Regions from separate parts of the Homo sapiens genome. Here region 2 is linked to region 1. Evidence: fine-mapped expression QTL. Tissue or cell type: lung. Region 1 holds a variant in brackets; the other region holds the start of a gene. All regions are shown on one strand. Distances are between the middles of the regions.

What was found. PIP is the estimated chance that this variant, and not a neighbour inherited with it, causes the effect.
Region 2: it holds the start of NHLH2, and the variant in region 1 is the best candidate, but not a certain one, in a credible set for the expression of NHLH2 in lung (GTEx, PIP 0.53).

Annotation. Positions count from the first base shown.
Region 1 is chr1:115,794,679-115,806,503 of GRCh38, forward strand. No RefSeq gene overlaps it. Among named protein-coding and RNA genes, the nearest start is that of CASQ2, 32 kb to the left of the region's middle. The variant T/C (reference allele first, on the strand shown) is at 5,468.
Region 2 is chr1:115,838,435-115,847,468 of GRCh38, forward strand. NHLH2 (nescient helix-loop-helix 2) reads right to left here and starts at 2,692. Exons shown (of 3, transcript NM_005599.3): 1 at 2,514-2,692; 2 at 1,782-2,110.

The DNA.
Region 1 (11,825 bases):
GAACTCTCTCTGTTGAGCAGATGAGGAAGATAGAAGAAATACTTGCAGAAGTTTCAGGGGTAGCACTTCAAACAATGAGACCATTGGGAAACTTCAGTCCTAGGGAGGCTAGGCATGTGGGGAGGGTTCTGCTGAAGAAAGGCTTTGTGCTAATGTGTGTCCATGGAGCCAACTGCGTGGAGTGACAGGCTCTGAGGATGGAGCCTGCCTGTGCATATCAAAGAATGGCCTTCCTATGTCTCCATGGCACAGACCCTGGTCACATACCGGTCTTTTTAGCCTTCCATATCCCTTAAATCACCCCTCAGCAGGAGCACCTGCAATTATGAAGTCAAATATTCTAACCTGAATTCCTTTTCTATTCGTATGACCAAATTCAGCAATCTAAGGACAATCTCATAAATGTTAGGTGGAAAAGAGCTTTACCTTGCCAGTCCAAGTACCTAAAATGATGTATGTGTTCCCCAACAAGCAGAGGCGAAACCTGCTTGTATTAATGACCTCTGCCAGGGCATTTTCAGAATTCCTGCAGCATGAGATGCCTTTCACCCACCACACTGGAGTTACTTCCCTCGGATTCACCACTTCATGGCTTTCCAGTCTGTATTGTCTTTGTTCTTCTCTGATCATCTTTCCAAACTAACCTCAGAATTATGTTCCTGCTTTTCCTGGGGTCTGCAAATCCTCTGTAATGAGCAGCCATCTGCAGATTCATTTTTATGCAGTTTCCCTTCCCCCTTCAGACTGGTAATAAAAATATTAAACAGGACTAAACCCAGGGCTGACCCCTGCTGCACCCTGCTAGACAGCCCCCCTTGGGATTGGCTGCCTTTTATCATTGGCCTTTTTTTCTTGCAATGTTTTGTCCAATTTACAGTCACCTCCCCCTGTCCTCAGCCTAGTCAATTAGAGCCGAATGTGAGAGCAAAAATGTTGAGAGATATCCCAAGCTTTTCCAGTTAAAGTCCAAATCTTTGTCTGTTTCTATATATCAGGAAACAATTTTGGGTAAAAACTGAATAACACCACATTAAATATCAACATATTTTTATGTTAACCATAATCTGTACTGTTGACTTAATATTTTATTTTCAACAAGTTCTTTGGTATCCTGTCTTCATGAGTTAACGTTTGCTAATAAAAAGTAAAAATTTCACTCAGTTTCTCTTTCTGACTGTAAACTCAGACTTGGGGCATTTTGTACTTCAGTTTCTTCAGATGTAAATAAAATAAACTAATTTGTGTTTACAACAAACTCCAAGAAATGTTTGATAGGACTACAAAGGATTGTTTATCCTTTAGAAATGCTTTGTCTTTTGACACAATTATTTCCCCCCATTTGGGGATCTTACCAAGAAAGATGCTGGGTAAATCTCTTTCGTTTTTATTGTGTGTATTCCACACATCTAGAAGTCCTGGAAGACGAAGAGGAGCATATCACTCCGCTGGGACTGCTTTCTGAATGCATGGATGTGCTATGAAATATAAATGTATCTCTTCCTGGACAGAGTTTTCTTTTTTCCCTTGCTCTCCTGGGACGCAGGGCTCATGGCGTCAAAAGCTCAGGTGCATCTAGCCATAAGAAGGAGCCTTTTCAGCTCTCTTTATCTCTGCCTCAGTACCCTCATCATAGTAATGAGGATGGACAGAGATTTAAAAGCAAATATGATCTAACAAATAGGCCAGACCCCTTTCTAATCCAGGTTCAGAACAAAAGATAGCACTTCCTGGAATTAACTCCTCGGGAGAGAAACACTCTCATCTAGTTGTGGAAAATCTTTTCCTTTCTCTCAAAATATTCAAAAAGTCCTATACTTTTAAAAGGACCATAAAGAGAGAGCCTTCAATATTTGGTCTATAGTTTAAAATTTTGTGTGACTTTTTCTTGGTCAGGAATGCTTTAACAAACAAGATCATCCAAACTAGGAACTTTAATAATAATTTTTATATTACAACTGCACAAAAATGCTTGAAATAAGAGAAACCCCACCATTCTTCATATATTTTGACTCTATTGTATACAGAAAAGATATAGTAAAAATAAAAAGGATTGTGTAGTTCACAGAACACTCAAGATATCACTCTCCATGATGAATGAATTTCTGAAAATAATATATATTAAATATACCATATATGACAGATTGACTTATTCTATACCCATAATATTTGTGTTGTATATTATTCAGGTGCTATTTTCATAAATGTATGTCTAAAAACATCTATAAATGTGACTTCACTGGTTAGCTGTCTCGTTGATACGGTGATGTGGGTCTTCAGCCTGGCTTTCTTTGTATCTCGGTACATCAGGTCTCAATGGCAATGGAGTGGGAGCTGTCCCGTTTCTGAGTCCCTGAAGCCCAGGTTGTGTTTGTGTATGGGGAGAGTTAATGAGAACAGAATGGCTTTCTTCCCCTAGCTTCCCCAATCCCATCTGTTCAAACAAAAGGCTGAAAGGGAAAGAGAACTGAGACCCTGCTGGTCAAGGGGGGAGGAATAATAACACATATCCTTGGGCAACATTTCAGCACATGCAACCCTTTTATACTGTGCTTAAGCTTTTATTCAGACAAAAGGAAGTCGGGCCAATGTAGGTTCCATTTAAAACTACAATTAAAAAAAAATACGTTAGGCCCAAAGGTCTTTTTTTTTTTTTTAAATAACTACATTTGTAAGTCTAGATTGAAAAATGAGAACTATGAAAGGAAAGGAAAAAAGCAATTTGTACTGAAATCTGCTGAGTAATCCACCTGTGTAGACAGTTGTAGAAGACCAATTTCACCTACTTTGAATGAAGTTGAAGGACAAGTAATGAGCATTATAATAAAAGGAGTTAAAAAAAAAAAGGCACTTCCTTAACTTCCTAAGAAGGGTCCATGAAAATATTGTGATTTCCAGTTGAGGACAAGAAAACCAGTTGCCTTCGGTTCATCAGGTTAGCGGCTTGCCCGCAGAAGCATGGCAAGCAACTCTGGAAGGTCAGAGCAACATTCCCTGGAGCAGTTCATTGAGGCTGACTGGCTCTTAGAGACGACTGCTTAAATCCCAATGGGCCACCCTCAAGGGATTATTTCACAAGATTTGCCAATGCCCTGATACATGCTGCTGTTCATTAAGGCAGGAGAAGAAAAGATTTCCTGGGTATTTACTCTACAATTAAAGCCAGAGCTATTGGGCCATCTTACCATCTATGGGAAGGTGAATTTGCAATCAGTTTTCTTTTATCTGTATTATAAACCATATATTTTAAGTCAGTCACCGCAATAGCTGCATTACCATCACATACATACAGACTTACCATTTTTTTAAAAGTGTATAAAATAAATTCTACCCTCTCCTCTTAACTTTGATGCTATCACTTCTGTAAAAAGGAAAATAAGAAAGGATGAAGATATTCACAAACTGAGATTGCCAGGAGTTAAGATGTTTAGGTCACTATATATTTGGAAAAATAAAAAAATCCACATCTTCAGGATATTTCCCAAATGACAAAAAAAGAGAAAGGAAGGGGAAAATAAAAAGTAAATGTGAGCATTAAGAAATGTCATCTTAGGACCTCCTGGGAATTGTGAAAGCCTGAGAAAATTTTATAAGGAAATGCAATTAGAACACCTAGGACACGCTGAGGCACAAAGTCTGGCTCCTTCCATAGAAGGGCCACCAGCTACTTAAGAAAGGCAAACCAAACCTGGAATCTAAGGGAAAAGAAATTTCCTGAATGATGGGGGTGGCCTCTGAAGGATAAGTAAGCTTGTGTAAAGTATGAGTTTAGCAAATCTTGATTATCTCGGTGAACATTTTCTCATAAATGTTCATTTTTATTGTGTCATCAACATACAATTGTGCATGCAAATGGAAGCAAAAGCAGGGAAAAGACAGTCCAAAGTGGTGATTGAGCAAAACCATATTATCTGGCTTTCACCTGCATCATATTATTCTTTTTTTACAAAGCGTTTTCTTTCCTTATTATTTATTTTTGCTTGGGCTAATTTTAAAATGAGTTTTTATTCCCTTGGTACAACAGTCAGTGTTGGCCCGGAATGAAAAACACACCCCTGATAATCCACAGAGAATGTAATCCACAACATTAATAACTGGCAGCTGAAAGCATTTGCCTATTCCATTTTCCTCCTTTATTCCTAAAGGAAAACAGGAATATAAATATGCCTACTTTATAGAAGACCTGAGTTCTTTAAAGGGTCAGCTACAAAAAAAATTTTTATTAACAAAATTAGATTTTGCCATGACTGTCCATCTCAAAACTAAAGTTGTATACCATGTAAAAAGTTTGCTTTTGGAGATAATAGGAGCCATATTTACAAAACAATATGACTCTAAATGAAACTGCCTTTGCAAAATTCTGACAGTGAGAGCAATCTGATGTAGTTGACTCCATCTTGCTTCTAACCTCCGAGCTGTTCTTGGTCATTACTGGGCGTAGGCCAAACTAACTTTGGGAGAAATATAGTTTATAGTTTAATCTTACAGCAAGGATGATAATAGCCCTTCCCAAAACTAAACTGCCTTTGTAAAACTAATGAAAGCTTACAAGGTTAGGATTATGAGGGGCCTGATTTCTGCTAAGACGTAGGCGTAGTTAAATGACAACTAGCCATTGTTCCAGAGGTCACAAGAATTGTAACTTCCCCAATTACTCCTGTAAATAATATCACTGTTGTAGAACCTATGATTGGCCTTTTGAGATGTTTTTCAGACTTTTGCATTGCTAATGAGGGCTGACCCTACCCAGACCCCCAACTCGTGTCTCAACTGGTCCTTTGGCTCCCACCCAGAGACCAACTCAGCACATCAAGACCTTTTTCCACACCCCTATGATTTCATACCCAATCAAGCAACATTCCTCATCCCCTAGTCTCTTGCCCACCAAACTATCCTTTAAAACCCCTAATGTCTTAGTTTTTAGGGAGACTAATTTGAGTGATAAATTCAGTTCCTCCTCATGGGCTGGCTTCACATCAGTTAAACTCTTTCTCTACTCCAATGCTGTGGTCTCAGAGAATTGATTTTGCCTGTGCAGTGGGCAGGAAGAACCCACTGGAAAAATCACATAAAGATATAGTACATATAAGGTTGAAAAAATGATCAACGCTAACTATTGGATGATCTCCATTGGACGATTTTCACTATGCTGTCCACAGTAGCCACAAGAGACAAACATGCCATGGTTGAGACAGACTCCTTAGGTATGACAAGGACTCCCCCAACCTGTGCCCCTAGCACTGCAGTTTCAGGCTGCTTTAAAAAAAAAAATTTGTTCTGTAGTTTTCGCTGCCATTTCATATGAGGTCATTATACAAGTAAATGGGACCTCTTCTGTCGGTTATCATTGGTGAGGTATATATACATTTTAAAGAGGCAATGTATTCTTCACATTTGACTTAAATTTAGACTTGTCAATTTATTCTATAACCATTCATTGTGAGACTTGAATTTAGATGTATCAATTTAT[T/C]ATATGACCATTAATTGTGAGACACTAAATAAAGGCTGTAATGGATTAAAAAATGCTTTGTCCAGGTACATGTGAGGGAGTGGAGAATATGGTCTGCCAGGTTGGGGCTTGGATATTTATCCAGAGGGTGATGAGGAGGTACTAGAGGTGGAAAACAGAGAAGGTGTGAGCAGATCACTGAGAAACAAGCATACCTCAGATATTGCAGTTTCAGCTACAGATCATTGCAATAAAGTGAATATCACAATAAAGCAAGTCACACAAATTTTCTGGTTTCCCAGTGCATATAAAATTATATTTACATTATACTGAAGTCTATTAAGTGTGCAATAGCATTCTGTCTAGAAAACAGCATACATGCCTTATTTTAAAAGTACTTTATTGCTAAAAAAGTGTTAACAATCATCTGAGCCTTCAGAGAGCCATAATTGTTTTGCTGGTGGAGAGTCTTGCCTCAGTGTTGATGGCTGCTGACTGATCAGTGTGGTGGTTGCTGAAGGTTGGAGTGGCTGTAGCAATAGATTGCATCTTCTTCCAATGCAAGGCTATTTCATCTACTTTGAAAATGTGTTGTTTAGTGTAGCTGCCTACACTATTATTATTAACTATTATGAATATCAGCAATAAGGCTGTTTCACTTTCTTATCATTCATATTTTCTTTTAATTTCCTTCAAGAATTTCAAGAACTGTTCCTTCAAGAACATTTTCTTTGCATTTGCAACTTGGTTAACTATTAGGTGCAAGAGCCCTAGCTTGTGGCCTGTCTCAGCTTTCAACATGCCTTCTTCACTAAGTTTAATCATTTCTAGCTTTCAATTTAGAGAGCTGTGTGACTCTTCCATTCATTTGAACACTTAGAGGCCATTTTAGAGCTATTAACTAGCCTAATTTCAATATTGTTGTGTCTCAGGAAATAGGGAGACGTGAGGAGACAGAAAAAGACATGGAATGGTTAGTTGGTGGAGCAGTCAGATCACACAACATTTATCAATTAAGTTTACTTTCTTATATGGGTATGGTTTATGGCATCCCAAAACAATTACAATAGCAACATCAAAGATCACCAATCACAGATCACTATAACCAATGTAATAATAATGAAAAGTTTAAAATATTGTGAGAATTACCAAAATGTGACACAGACATCAAGTGAGCATATGATATTGGAAAAATGGAGCTGATAGATTTGCTTGACACAGGTTGCCACAAACCTTCAATTTGCACAAAAAAAAAAAAAAGACTGTAAAGTGCAAAAAAGCAAGGCACAAATAAGTGAGGTATGCCTGTATTTGCAATTACAGTTGACCGTTGAACAACAGGAGTTTGAACTGCACAGGTCCACTTATACTTAGATTTTCTTCTACCTCTGCCACCTCTGAGACAACAAGACCAACCCCCCTTTTCCTCCTCTTCCTCAGCATGCTCAAAATAAAGACAGCAAGGATGAAGATCTTTATGATGATCTACTTCTACTTAATGAATAGTAAATATGTTTTCTCTTCCTTATGATTTTCTTAATAATATTTTATTCTCTCTAGCTTACTTTAAGAATACAGTATATAATACCTATAACATGTAAAATATGTTTAACTGACTGCTTGTTATTAGTAAGGCTATGGTCAACAGTAGGCTATTAATACTTCAGTTTTGAGGTAGTCAAAGTTATACGCAAATTTTCAACTGTGCAGGATAGGGGGGCGGGGGGATGGGGAGATGTTTTCCCTAACCCCTGGGTTGTTCTAGAATCAACTGTATATTCTTTAGTTTAACCAAATTCTTTCTCACTAAATGAATTAGTGGCATTGAGAGTTTCCTGCAAAGACATAGCAGACTAAAACAAACAACAGAATGGCAGAGCCAACATTCTACTCTTAGCCTGAGTTGTTTGTCAGCCATGTTATGAGATTAAAGCAAAGATGATATAATAAACTCTGAAAAAAGTCAGCCAAAAAAATTAAAAATTAACAAGAGTTTTTGAAATACAGCTTTGTATCATTAACCACAGGGTATGATTTATATGGTGTGTATTATGTTTTCATGAAGTGAGGTATCTTTTTGGCTACATCTGCCATGAAAATCTAGTGGATAAATAAACTAGGCTTAGAATCACAACTTTGAATTACTACATTGTAAAACATTAAACTAAATTTGATTTTTAAAAATAAAGTGTATCCAACTACATTACTCTCACTAAAAATATTATTGTGAATTATAATTATAAAAGAGTACAAAAAGTTTTCGTATCATTAATAAAAAATAATTTTAGAAATGTTAATTTCATCTTTCTTATTTTTTTCCAGTTACTGTGCTACGGAACAATTCATCCCAAAACTTACTGGCTTAGAACAGCAACAATATTGATTTTACTCACTATTTTGCAAGTTGGGGAAAGCTTTCAGAGATAGCTTGTCTCTCCTCCACATGGTGTCATTTTGGTTGGCTTGAAGGCTGGGAGCTAATGCTAACTGTCAGCTGCTTTCCATGTGGGCCGTCTTCTCCTATGTTGGCTCAGGGCTCCCAAGGCATGTGTCCCAAGAGAAAAAGAGCTAGGCAGAAGCATTAACTTCTTTTATGACCTAGTCTAGTTAGCCAGCACAGTTATAAAGTTCTGCCAGGTTCAAGGGGAAGGAACATAGCCTTTCAGTCAAGTAGTGTCAATGTCACACTGCAAGATGAAAAGGTAGGAACAGATTATGTTGATATGGCCATCTTTGAAAAATGCAATCTTACAAAATTATCATTTTTATTATCATACAACATTTTGTGTTTTACACAACATATCAGTACATCTTCATATTTTATACATAACTAAATATGTATATATTTATAACATTGTCAGAATGCTTTATAAATTGGAGTGCATAATCAAAATTATTTGAAAACTTTTCTCATTTAGGAAACTGAAAGTAAAATAAAATGTATCTTTGCATGGCATAGGAGATACTAAACATATTTTTTCATCCTTTCTCATTGGCCTTCAGACTAATGGGGGGTCAGTACCTTGTAAAATAGTGTTTCACTAGGACTCTTTGCAGTAATTAATCTCCCTTTCCCCTATATTCTAATAGCAAATTATGCTTTTGGTACCACATTTCTCACATTGGGTTTTGCATTCAAGTTAAGTACATATGGTATGTAAGACAAAGTCTTATTCAGCTCTGTGGGCTCAACAGTTTGTAGAATGCTTTTTACATAGTAGATGCCCCCCAAAATACTGAATTGAATGGACTAGCTAAAGTTTTAGGATCTTTACTCCAGCAGTGGAAGTTGGTGGTGGAAGAGCTGATTTACTTAGAAGAAGAAAAGAAGGGAATATGCAATGGTAGTCTATTTTCCAGACCACAGCTCTCCCTAGCATGTACTATACATCGTCTGAACCAACTCTGAGGGCCATAATAAGTAAGTGGGTAGAGGAAGATGAGTAGGTCCTTAATATAAAGGATTGTAAATATCTACTGCCCTCCGTTGTCAAAGATGGCAATGTTTCTGATCCCATGATCATGGTGTAGCAGAAATAGCTCCAGATTGGCAGCCATGACATTTGTCATGGGGTAACCTTTTGGCAGTTAACTTTTGGTTTCTCCATCTGTGAAGGAGTGGATTTGTATTAACAAATTCTTAGGTGCCCCACAGCTTGAAAATATTCTGATTCTCAAAACCCCTGAGATGCGGTTCTATATGAGTAGTTATGAAGGTGAAGCAAGGTTGGTGATCCCAACTTGTGATCCGAATATGGCACTGTCTTATGATTTAAAGAAAACCATTGAAAACATAGATTATTATTCTTATATACCCAATGCCTAGAATAGTACCTAGCTCAAGATAAATGTTCAGAATATTTATTGAATGTGATATAATACAGAGTGTAGTTGATTTTTGCCCATGGTTCCTGGCTCAAAATTTCTTGGAATTTTCTGAATAATAGGAGTGTCTTTTGTTTTCATAAGAGCCCCTTTTGATCATACCTCAGTTTATGCTAATGAGGCAACTCATGGTAAAACCTTAGTTTTAAGGGAGAGGCTGACCATGACAGAAACACCGAGATGTAATGAGAATGTTGGAATTTTCAGCCTCACCTCCTCAGCTCCAAAGAGGGCAAAGGAGCTAGAGATTGAGTTCAATCACTTGGCCAATCATTTAATCAATGATACCTATGTAATGAGACCCTAGATAAATACTCTGAACACCATAGTTCAGGGGAGCTTCCTTGTTGGTGAAGAGGTTGATATGCTAGGAGGCTGACACACCCAGAGAGGGCAAAGAAGCTCCAAGCCTTTCTCCCAGACCTTGCTTTTCTCTTCCATTGGGGTGTTCTCCGATTGTGGCTTTTATAATAAAACCGTAATTTTAGTGTGCTTTCAGTAAATTCTGTGAGTCATTTTAGTAAATGACTAGAATGTGGTCATGGGAACTCCTAAATTTGTAGCCAACTCAGATAGAATTGCAGATATCCAAGGACACTACTTTCAGCTGACATCTGAAGTAAGGGCAGTCTTATTGGGGACCTTGCCCTCTAACTTGTGGTATCTAATGTTAACTTCGAGTAGTTAGTGTCAAAAGCAAATAACTTTGCCCTTAACTTGTAGAGTCTGCCCTAACTGTGGGTAGTTAGTGTCAAAATTGAATTGAATTCTAAGATATCCACTTGGTGTTGGAGAATTGAGGTTAGAAAGTAGCAAATCATAATAAATCACATTAATGAGTACTCATTCTATGCCAGGTACTGTTCTGGATGCTTGATATGATCACCTCATCTAATCCTCACAAGAAAACAATGAAGTAGATATCATTATCATCCCCATTTTACATGTAGGAAACTGAGGCATAGAGGGAGTAATTTCAGTGTTATACAGCTGACAAAACTGGATTTAAACCTGTTTCCTAAACCACTACCCACACAGAGTCATACTACTCAGCCCTGTCTTCTTGATCCTCAGGCAGCTGAAGCAACACCAAAAAAGTCAGACTTGAAGATTCTGGGCATACTGATGGCAAATGTTCAGAAACATGGAAGAGATTGCTTCTGAGACACTTCATAAAACAGGCTAGGATGTGGTTGCCAGTTCCCCAAGAATTGAAATATGCCACATGCCTCACCTCCACTCAGGTATTAAGTGTGAAACACCTCAGACCCTATTAATCAGACCCATCACCAGAATCAATATTCGTTAAACAGCCATGTGCATGAACAAAAGCTAATCACAAAGAAGACATAGATGCTACTCCCACGTTGGTTCTGCCCAAAAGGAGAGATAACACTAATGGAGACAAACCTTCCTTCCTGTCTTGAGAAGAGGGAGGGTGGAAAAAAGGCCCACTTATCTGAATGGATTTGGAGCACTACACAGCTGCCCCTATGCCCTCCTCATATCTCTTCATATGTAAAGTATTTTCTATTTGGAGGACAGAGCAAGACTAGATTAACGGCAGGTCTGATGACCCCTATCTTTAAAGGGCCTTAACCTCTCATAAAAATACTTAATAGAGTTCTTTCCCTTTAATTGCATGCCACAATCTTTGGGGGCCCTTCTATCTCTATGGATGCTCTGGGCACTAGCCTCCCTTTGTAATGTGGTTCTGCCTGAGTGTGGAATCAGCTGATGAGGCCAGGGGTCCCAAGGCAATACACCATCTGGCCAAGGTCATGGGTGGCAGATTATCAATTAGGAAGCATGGCGGGGAGGATGTTGTGTGGCTGGGGGTGGATCAGCCATTAGTAAGGGAACCAGTGTAGGTGTTGCAGCAGATTAATACACAAATCTTTGCTCTCAAGGGATCCTGCATGAAATCTTAGATTTGGTCACTAAGAGCTTTCAGAGGTAGAAAATGGAGCAACTGCATTAAAACATGAGCATGCACTTAGAGCAGTGTTTCTCAAACTTTAATGTGCATGTGAATCACCTAGAGATCTTGTTAAAATGGCTTTGGATTCAGTGGGTCTGAGGTGGGCCTGAGATTTTGCATTTATAATAACTCAGGAGATGCCAGTGCTGCTGGGCCATGAACCACTCTTAGATGCAAAGGCTTAGAACACATCCCACCTTGTTCCCTGCTTCCCTCTTGAAGGTTTCACCTGTTGGAACCTGGTTTCTATAGCCCTGCCTTCCACTCCAATTCCATAGATTAAATAAGGTCCCTCTCGCATGCTAATGTATGTTAATCATGAATAAGAAAAGCCAGGTTCCTTTTTTTCTCTTTTGCTTTTCACTTACTTTTTAACTGTACCAGTAATACATGAATATATCTGGAGTATTTCAGCCAACCCAAACATCATATCATTTAATCTACGAGTTCTTTTTTATCTATCTTTAACATAAAGACTCTAAAAAACCACACACACAATACCATTATTATTCT
Region 2 (9,034 bases), 42 kb after region 1:
AGGATGGCTGCCGAGGCCTACCACGCCGGTCCTCCCAGCGGACGCGCGGCCCGGGCCCCCTCCCCACAGCAGGCCGGCGCGCGACGCGGGAGGGCGCCGATAGGATCTGGCCCGAGGGCGCGAGCCCTGCGCCTCGCCCTGGCGCGGGAGCCGGCGGGGACGCGGTTGACCCAGGCCGCATACTAGACTGGACACCTCGACTTGCAGACGGCCACAGCGGGCCTGTGGCCCTGGGCCTGGGGAACAACCGCAGGCCTGTGGGGTCGCGACTGGGTTTTTGTGCCTCTTCCGGCCAAATGCCAACCGCGCTATTCCTCCTCCCTCCCTTCGTCCCCTTCCCGGACAAACGAGCGATTTCGAACAACGAATACATCTGGGTTTTCACGGGGGCGGGGAGACGCGGGGTGCACTTCTCGCCCCGAGGGCCTCCGGCGAAGCAACCCGGCAGCCGCGGCGCCCGAGGGCCTGGCGCTGGTCTGGGGCTGCGCCGGGGGCGCCTGGCTCTGGGGTGCGGCCGGTCAGGAATCCCCATCCTGGAGCGCAGGCGGAGAGCCAGTGGCTGGGGGCGGGAAGGCTTCTTGGACCCCTCGCGCTTCTCCGAAATCGTAAAGAAATGACTAAACAAACGTGGGGGAGCCTTTAAAAAGAAAATTGACTCCGATGCCCTCGCAGGCTCCCGGAGCACCATCTGTCACGCAGACAGCCACACACATAGGGGACCTAGGGACACGGCGACGTGGGATCAGACAATGCGCCCGGCAGTCTGGCGACCACCTTGCGGGAAAATGCCGGCAGCCGGGCCGCTGAGGGAGGAGAGGATGCAGAGGGAAGGGAAGAGAAGGGAAGGGCCCGGGGCGGGGCAGGCGGGGACTAGCGGGTGCAGCGCGTGTTGTCCCGGCGGGAGCTGCATCTCTGCCGGCAAAGTTCGGGCGCTCCCGGAACCGGAGCTCGGCAGGCTGCAGCTGTCCCCGGGTGGCCTGGCCAAGTCCGGGCATGTCGGTGCTTAGCCTTCCTCTAACTTAACTGTGCCCTCTTGGAAACGCCACCTGGCCAGGCTTCTCTGGGGCGCCTGGAGCACTGGCCCGGACTGTGCGCCTTCTGGGAGGGGGCCGCTCAGAACCGCTGGGCTTCCGGGTAATTCGGGCTTCGAGAAAGGGCCCGGCAGGAGGAGAAAGGCCCCTGCAGGGGCTGCACGCACCGCCCCTGGGCGTCGGGAGTGAGGACCAGGCTGAGAACTCGGGGCCCCGGCGTGGGCAGCCTCCACGACGCTCGGCACGGGAGAAATCCGCGTCGGCGACGTATAGGAGCGTTTGCTTCTAGAGAAACAAAAGCAAGGGGATGGGTGATCGGTTCCCAGCACCGCACTTGCAGAGGAGCGAATTGGGCCAAAACAGCTTTAATTTCCCTGCGAGGAAATCAGGTCCTCTACGGCAAAATAAAAACAAATGCTCCCAGAGAGCTGCATGTGACTCCCTACGGGCTTTTCTCGGGTACGTTTATGAGTAGAACAACTTGCACCTACACAGTCAGCTTGAAAGGGCAGAAATAAATAGACGAGTAATGGAAAATCACAATAAGCCACTAAATAGTTGTAGTTCTGGTAAAAAGTTCCTGGGTTGCCCTCAAAGCACATTAAATTCTCCTCTAGATCTTTAAAAATATTCATAAATAGTATGCCGTGTATGCGTTTTATCTCTTTATGGAATGAACTGCATCTATAGATACAGTATGAATAATCTAACTTATTTCAAGCTGAAAAAAATTATTTAAAGGAGTCTTACCTTGCAAAAGCCTTTTTGATAATCTGTTCTCCAATCTTTAGAGTTAAAATTCCAAGGAATAGCGAGGGGAGATTCCGGAAAATATTAAAAGCAGCAAATATTTATTACATTCAAAAATGAAAAAGCAGCTGTCATCTCGCTGGTGTCCGCAGCGAGGGACAATAATATCTCAGGATGTAGACGATATGAATGATTGTTCACTTAGTTGATAGATTTTTTAAAAAACGCTTTTTCCTTTTAATTGTTCTCAAACATTGCAAGAAATTCGTTGATGATTTTTTTAAACGATGTGTTGAAAAGTCTCGTGCCTTTTTTCCTCTTCTAGGTCTCTAAAAATAACAAAAGAGATGCAGAGATAAACACAATCACATCAAAGGGCTGATTCCTCCACTTTCTAATAGCGGAATAATCAATAAGAAAGATGGTTAAGATAAGATTCCGCTCCTATCGTATGCCTTTCTTTTCCTTAATACGGCTGAGCAGAAACTGGGAAGTGCAGGACAGAGATGTGATCTTGCTCAGAAGTGATTTTTTTTTTTTTTTTGAGATAAGGCTTTGTTCAGCTGATATCTCCCCAGTTCCCAGGAACACAATACTGTAACTAGGAGCTAAGGTTGCCTCTTCCTCTTCCCTCACTTACTTGTATGTTGTATAAATAGACACCTATTTTCCAGTTTCAAAGTCTTTCAAGGTTTGGCTATATCCCCCGTCCCCAGCCCCTCTTCTCTTTACCTTGTAGCAAAATATATATAGTCAGTGGCTTGGAGATGCTTGGAGAAAGGTTGGTGAAAAGTGAACGTCTCCTGGAGTAACAGTGACAAGGAAGCAGAGAAAGACGGGAAGAGGGTGGGAGAGCCAGAGCAAAGAGGCAGAGATGCGTGTGTGGCTTCTGGGCTCTCCTGGTACCAATTGATTCAGCCTGGAGATGGTGGAAGAGATAAAGGCTTAGGAAGGGGGATGGAATTTTTTTCCCCTAAATTGATATTTAATGGGAAATCCTATTGGACAGAAACCTGGACATGAGTCACTTAATTGGACTTGACATCTGTCACAGTGTGGGAGTTTTCACAGCCCAAATATTTTAGCAGATCAGATTCCCACTGAATCTGTGCCATAAAATATAACAATTGAAAAGCAGTTCATGATAGAAATCTTAGCCTCTAAACAGTATCTAGCCGTAGTCAGGCTATTTCTCTTTTCCAGATTATTGATGAAATATTTAAGTACAAATAAACAATATATTGACTATCAAAGAATTCCCCTGGCATATTACAAAGCCACCACTTTCCCTTAATATTTAGAAAAATATTTGTGTCCAGAACATGGAAATATATACTATATAAGATGCTGCAATAAAGTATTTAGACATGCAACAGCCAACATTTATTAGAGATCATTTACATTTTAAAAGATACTTCAGTAAGGTTTGATTAAGCATATTAACATTTTTGAGAAATGATCTGCTATGAGACTAACTTATCAATAGATGGTAAGAACCTTTCAATAGATTAAGCCATTGGTGGAACTAGAAAGAGAATCCACATATTCACGGACCACGACATGAGATAATTCTACTTTTCTGTATGTTTGTTTTTCTCTCCACCCACTCATTCATTCAAGCTGAAATATGACATGCTACATGTGTTGATTATTGCACTTCATTCTTGCCCATCTTAACATGCTAATATATTGTACTGCGTGGCAGTGCTTGTGCCAAGATGTAAACACAAATTACCAGTGTGTCCCAGTACATAATGCCTTTGCCTTACATGATCCCATGGCCCTGAATTTGTATACCTTATAATAAAAAATAAAATCTAGTTCAATTATTTTGCCACTTTATGAAGATACTCATAGTTAATATCAATAACATATTATTTGTGATTATTTTAGCTTGTTTTGATCATACAAGCTTAAAGAAATAAAAGAGCATTACAGCCTTACTCCCACCCCGCCAGTTCCTAGGGGAACATTTGTGGAGAGAGGAGTCCTCACTTGTCTTCCTTAATTTTGCCCTAAAAGCAGATTTTATCACCAGGGGAGGCACATTGAGCAGCCCACCCCTGGGAGTGACCCTCCGGGTTTTTCATGGCTTCCACAAGTACTATTTGCCTTTGCCCACATTTTTGCTCCTTTGAGAGATTCCTGGACCACAATGGGGCAGGGGTCGGGGAAAGGAGGGAGTGCCTCCAACAAATAAGGGCACCAACACTCCCCAGCCTTGCTTCTGCCTAACCCCAGCACAGAGGTATATTTTAGATATCCCCAGAACGTTAAAGTGAAGATGGAAGCCGGTCCCATACAGGTGGCAATGGAAATGGGTGAGTGGATAAACACCCCAAGGTGGTGACAATGAAGGGAGAAGGGAGGTTTTCTCACTCTAGTTAGGAACAGCCAATGCTAAGCATTCACACACAACCAGAAGTGTGCACACAGATGCACACCCACAGACACCTGTACCTCCTCCCCCTTCATCATACAAGCTGGCTGGCTCTATTAGACCACCACACATCCATACTGATGGATTGAAAAAAACTGGTGGGTCTAATCACCATAGCTCTAGAGTGGGCAGCTGCTACAGTGGGAAAGGACCAGCATCTCTGGTTCCCCTGGTGTTGGGGAGTCATGACAGGGTGTGCCTATCAGGGCAGGTCCAATTCTGCTATGGTGTGTGTGATACCAGACAAATTCCCTTTTATGTTCAGGCTTACTCATTCTATACCAGCAGCCAGCATACACAAAAATTAATGCTTACAGAAGTAAGCCTGTATAAACAGGTACACACTCAGATCCATACTTAGTGATGCCTAGCCACACTGTCATAGACACAGACATGGATTCACATTCACACACACACATTCTTTCTTCCATCAAAGCCTCCCCCTCCCCCACCCCTTTGCCTTTTCTAAGACCTCCCTGGCACAGATGGCCCCTCCTTCTGTGCTCCATAAGCACTCCTTTCATGTCTCCCTTAGAGACTACATATTGTGTACCGTGATTCTTGGTTCTTGGTTACCACACTGGTCTCTCTTCCTAGGCTATGATGCTTCCAGGGGAGGTCTGTAGCTTATATCCCCAGCACTAATGTCTGAGCTTGACACATTATAGGTACTCAGTTCATTTATGATGTGACTCTATGTACAGAGGTACCCCAGATATTTGTAACATAGAAACGCTTCCACTAAAGGACACCCATGGTTCAGTTCTATCAATTTTCTTTCCTGTAAAAATGAGAATAATAATATTGCACTTCTCATTTCACAGGCTCGCTATGAGACCCAATGTATTTGAAAATATTTGATGAAATAGTAAGCACCATACAAATTATGATATTATAGACTATAAGAGTAATATTAAATAATATTATTAAATGAATGGGGAGGTGATAAGTAGTGACTTAAAAAGTCCGGCTTTGTGGCTCTGTCATATGCTAGCTGTGTGAATTTAGTTGTAAGTTACTTAACCTTTTTGGACCTTAGTTTTCTAATCTGTAAAATGAGAATAATCAAAGCATGTTATGTAATGTTATGTCATGTTTTTTTCTGAAGGTGAACAAGATAATATATGTAAAGTGCTTAAACTAATGCCTAGAACTCATGTTCAGTAAGTGTTGGCTATCATTATTATTATTATTCAGTATAAATACATATTGAGGAACAGATATATATTGACATAGAAAAATAAACATATCCAGATATACTCACCCGTGTGTGTGTGTGTGTGTGTGTGTGTGTGTGTGTGTGTGTGTGTGTGTCTGTCCATAGCTCTGGTGGCCAAACTACAATGAGCATTTTCCATGTGTCAGACCTAGGTATAGTGACTTTGCTCATATTAACTTATTTAACCTTCACCACAAACCTGTGAGGTAGGTAGGTACTGTTGTCCCGATTTTGTGTATAAGAAAACTAGGACATGGAAAAGATGGTAATCTACTCAAGGTCACATAGCTAATAAATTATGGAGCTAAGATAGAGATTCAGGTGGTCTAAATTCAGAAACTGCACTCTCAGACACAAAGTACTACTGTTTCTGTCATTGTATCCTACACAGATATACTCACACAGAACTATTCACCAAAATGCATATGGCAAGGGAGAAATACACGTACACACAAAACTTAGATAAATGGCCACCTTTGCATTCAGGGGTGGTTAGTGAGTGATATGGTTTGGCTGTGTCCCCACCCAAATCTCAACTGGAATTGTACTTGCCATAATTCCCGGGTAGGAGGTAATTGAATGCTATTCTCATGAAAAGAGTAAGTTATCATGAGATCTGATGGTTTTATAGGGAGCTTACCCCTTTGCTCAGCTCTCATTCTTCTCTCTCCTGCTGCCTTGTAAAGAAGGACATGTTTGCTTCCCCTTCCATCATGATTATAAGTTTCCTGAGGCCTCCTTAGCCCTGAGGAACTGTGAGTCAATTAAACATTTTTCCTTTATAAATTACCCAGTCTCAGGTATGTTCTTATATCAGCATGAGAATGGACTAACACAGTGTCAGTGTAGTTTAAATACTTACTGCACATCTAGTGCTTTGCCAGATACTGTTGGACTACAAAGGCTTTGTAATTATTTGTTACTTTTATGAGACATCTGTTTCCAACCTATTTTTTAAAATTTTGTACCCCATAGATAAAAATTTAGGGCATACATACTGAGTATATGTATATTTATATGTATATACCCAATTATAACTACATAATATACTAGTACAGTAGTACATGTATAAGCTTTGTACATGTACTACTGTACTAGTATATTATATAATTATGATATACAAAAGATAAGCAAAGATATGATAAAAATATTTATTTTAAAATTTGTAAGTATTTATCAATAGATACATTTATAAATTTAAATATTCATATTTATTATTAAATATATGATAAACTTAAAAATAATATTAATAAACTAATTAATTTTATTTATTAACAGCACAAAAACCAATTAACAGCATAAGGTTTTATTGATCATGTATAACTTCTGAGAGCAATAAGCTTAATTTTGTTAAACTCATTGTTTAACCCTTTGAGATAATGATTTGATCATCTGGTTTTAAGATCAATTTATTTAGAATCTGTTTTTTGGCTGATATAGCAGAAAGAGATGTAATACAAAAATTCAGATGGTATCACAAAATATGATAAGCATGTGAAGTGATGGATATGTAAATTAGCTTGATTTACTCATTCCACAGTGTAAACATATATCAACACATCACATTGTACATCATAAATGTATACCATTTTTATTTGTCAATTTAAAAAAAAATAAGAAAAAGTGGAAACATCCCAAAGGTCCATCAACTGATGGATGGATAAACAGAATGTGATATAACCATACAATAGACTACTATTCGGCAAGAAAAGAAACAAAGTACTAATACATGTGACAACATGGATGAACCTCAAAAACATTATGCTGAGTGAAAGAAGCCAGACACAAAGACCACATATTGCGTGACTCCATTCATATGGAAAGGTACAGAATGAGCAAATCTATAGAAACAGAGGTAGATTAATGGCTGTGCAGGGATAAGATCGGGTAAAGAAAGGTACCAGGGAGTGATTGCTAATCAGCAGAGTTTCATCTTGGGATGATGGAAATATTCTAAAATTAGATTTTGGTGATGATTTCATGACTCTGTAAATATACTAAAAAACATTGAGCTGTGTGCCTTAACTATGGTATGTTAAGTATATCTCAATAAAGCTATTAGAAAATTCAGAAGACATAATGTGTGATATTTATGTCACTGTAGTGGGTAAAGGGCGTGATGTCTTTTCTCACCCATCATAAGGGTCACAGCTGACACTCCTTTAACAAAAGACAGGTTAACATGAAAAGCATAACATATTTATCTAATCAGAGTTTTACATGACACAGGAGTCTTCAGAATGAAGACCCAAAGATCCAAAGGAAAACTGTCCATTTTTATGCCTAGATTTGATGCAGAGTGGATAGCCGTGCAGAAATGCGACTGGACAAAAAGGGAATGATCTTACAGCAACAGACTGAATGAGGAAACCCAGGAAAGCCTGCCTGTTAAGATTCTACTTGGTCTCTCTGTGTGGCATTCCTTTTTCCAGGGATAGTGCAAGACCCCTTTTAGAATGAGGGTCTTATAATCTACTTGCAGACAGAGTAGGTCAGAGAATTTCTGTATGGTCAGCTCTTACACAGAAAAATGGGAGAATGTTAGAATACTATTTCTAGGTTTTATGGCTGGCTTTGGAGAGAGGGGTTCTAGTTTCTATGATCCACCTTGGGGAAGAGAAATTCTAGTTTCTATGGCTTGCCCTTGGGGGAGAAAAGGGAGCAAGGAGAAAGGAGGGCATGAGAAGTTCAGAGAGAGACTTTGCTTTTAAGGGATTTTCAATCACCTTTTGTTCAAAGTACTCAGCATGCCAAAGTGCCATACTTTGAGTTATCATTTTCTGAATCCCAACAATTCCTATTTTCACTGTACTTCTCTATTTATTATTTTATCTAGTATATATTTTTATTTATTGTTATTGATTATATCATAAATGGTGAGGGTTTTTATCATTTTTTATTTGTTTGCTTTCTTTAAAGGAATAGAAGAGACTACCACCAGTTGTAGCAGTACTTTTGAAAACTTACCATCTATGTGACCCGAACCGTGGTAGGAGTGAGCACAGTCAGAGGTTAAAGATAGACAATAGTATCCCCTAGTTTGCTCTGTACTTATCTATGGTCCACTTGTGCTGGTGAGCTGATATGTGTGGTGGATAACCATTCCCAATTTTTTAAAATTAAAGTAAAATTTCCAATTTATTTTATATAAGCCAATATTATCCCATTAGTAATAATTACAGGGGAAAAAACAGAAACTCTTTTGTGACAAAAGTATTTTAGCATCTATATAAACACCATAAGTGATAGGACATAATTTGAGAGCTATTTATTTTCACTAAACATATATTAATAAAACAATGTTTCCAATCCCTCAACCCATTCAGACATATACACATTGTTGTGGGAGATCATTTTTCTTATGAAAGAATAAAATGTGTGCTATAAGAAAAAAAATCAAAAGTCTAACAGAAGTTAATCACTGATTGTGTTAACTAAATTATTATTCTCATTTTTCTTACTTATCTATGAAATATTCCAAAGTTTTATTGAAATTTGGACAGTAAGTCTCTTTCTAATGTGAATTAGTTTTTCTTTTAACAATGGGTTTAAAATCCATAAAACTCTTGATTTGGAAAAATTTTTAACAGCTTA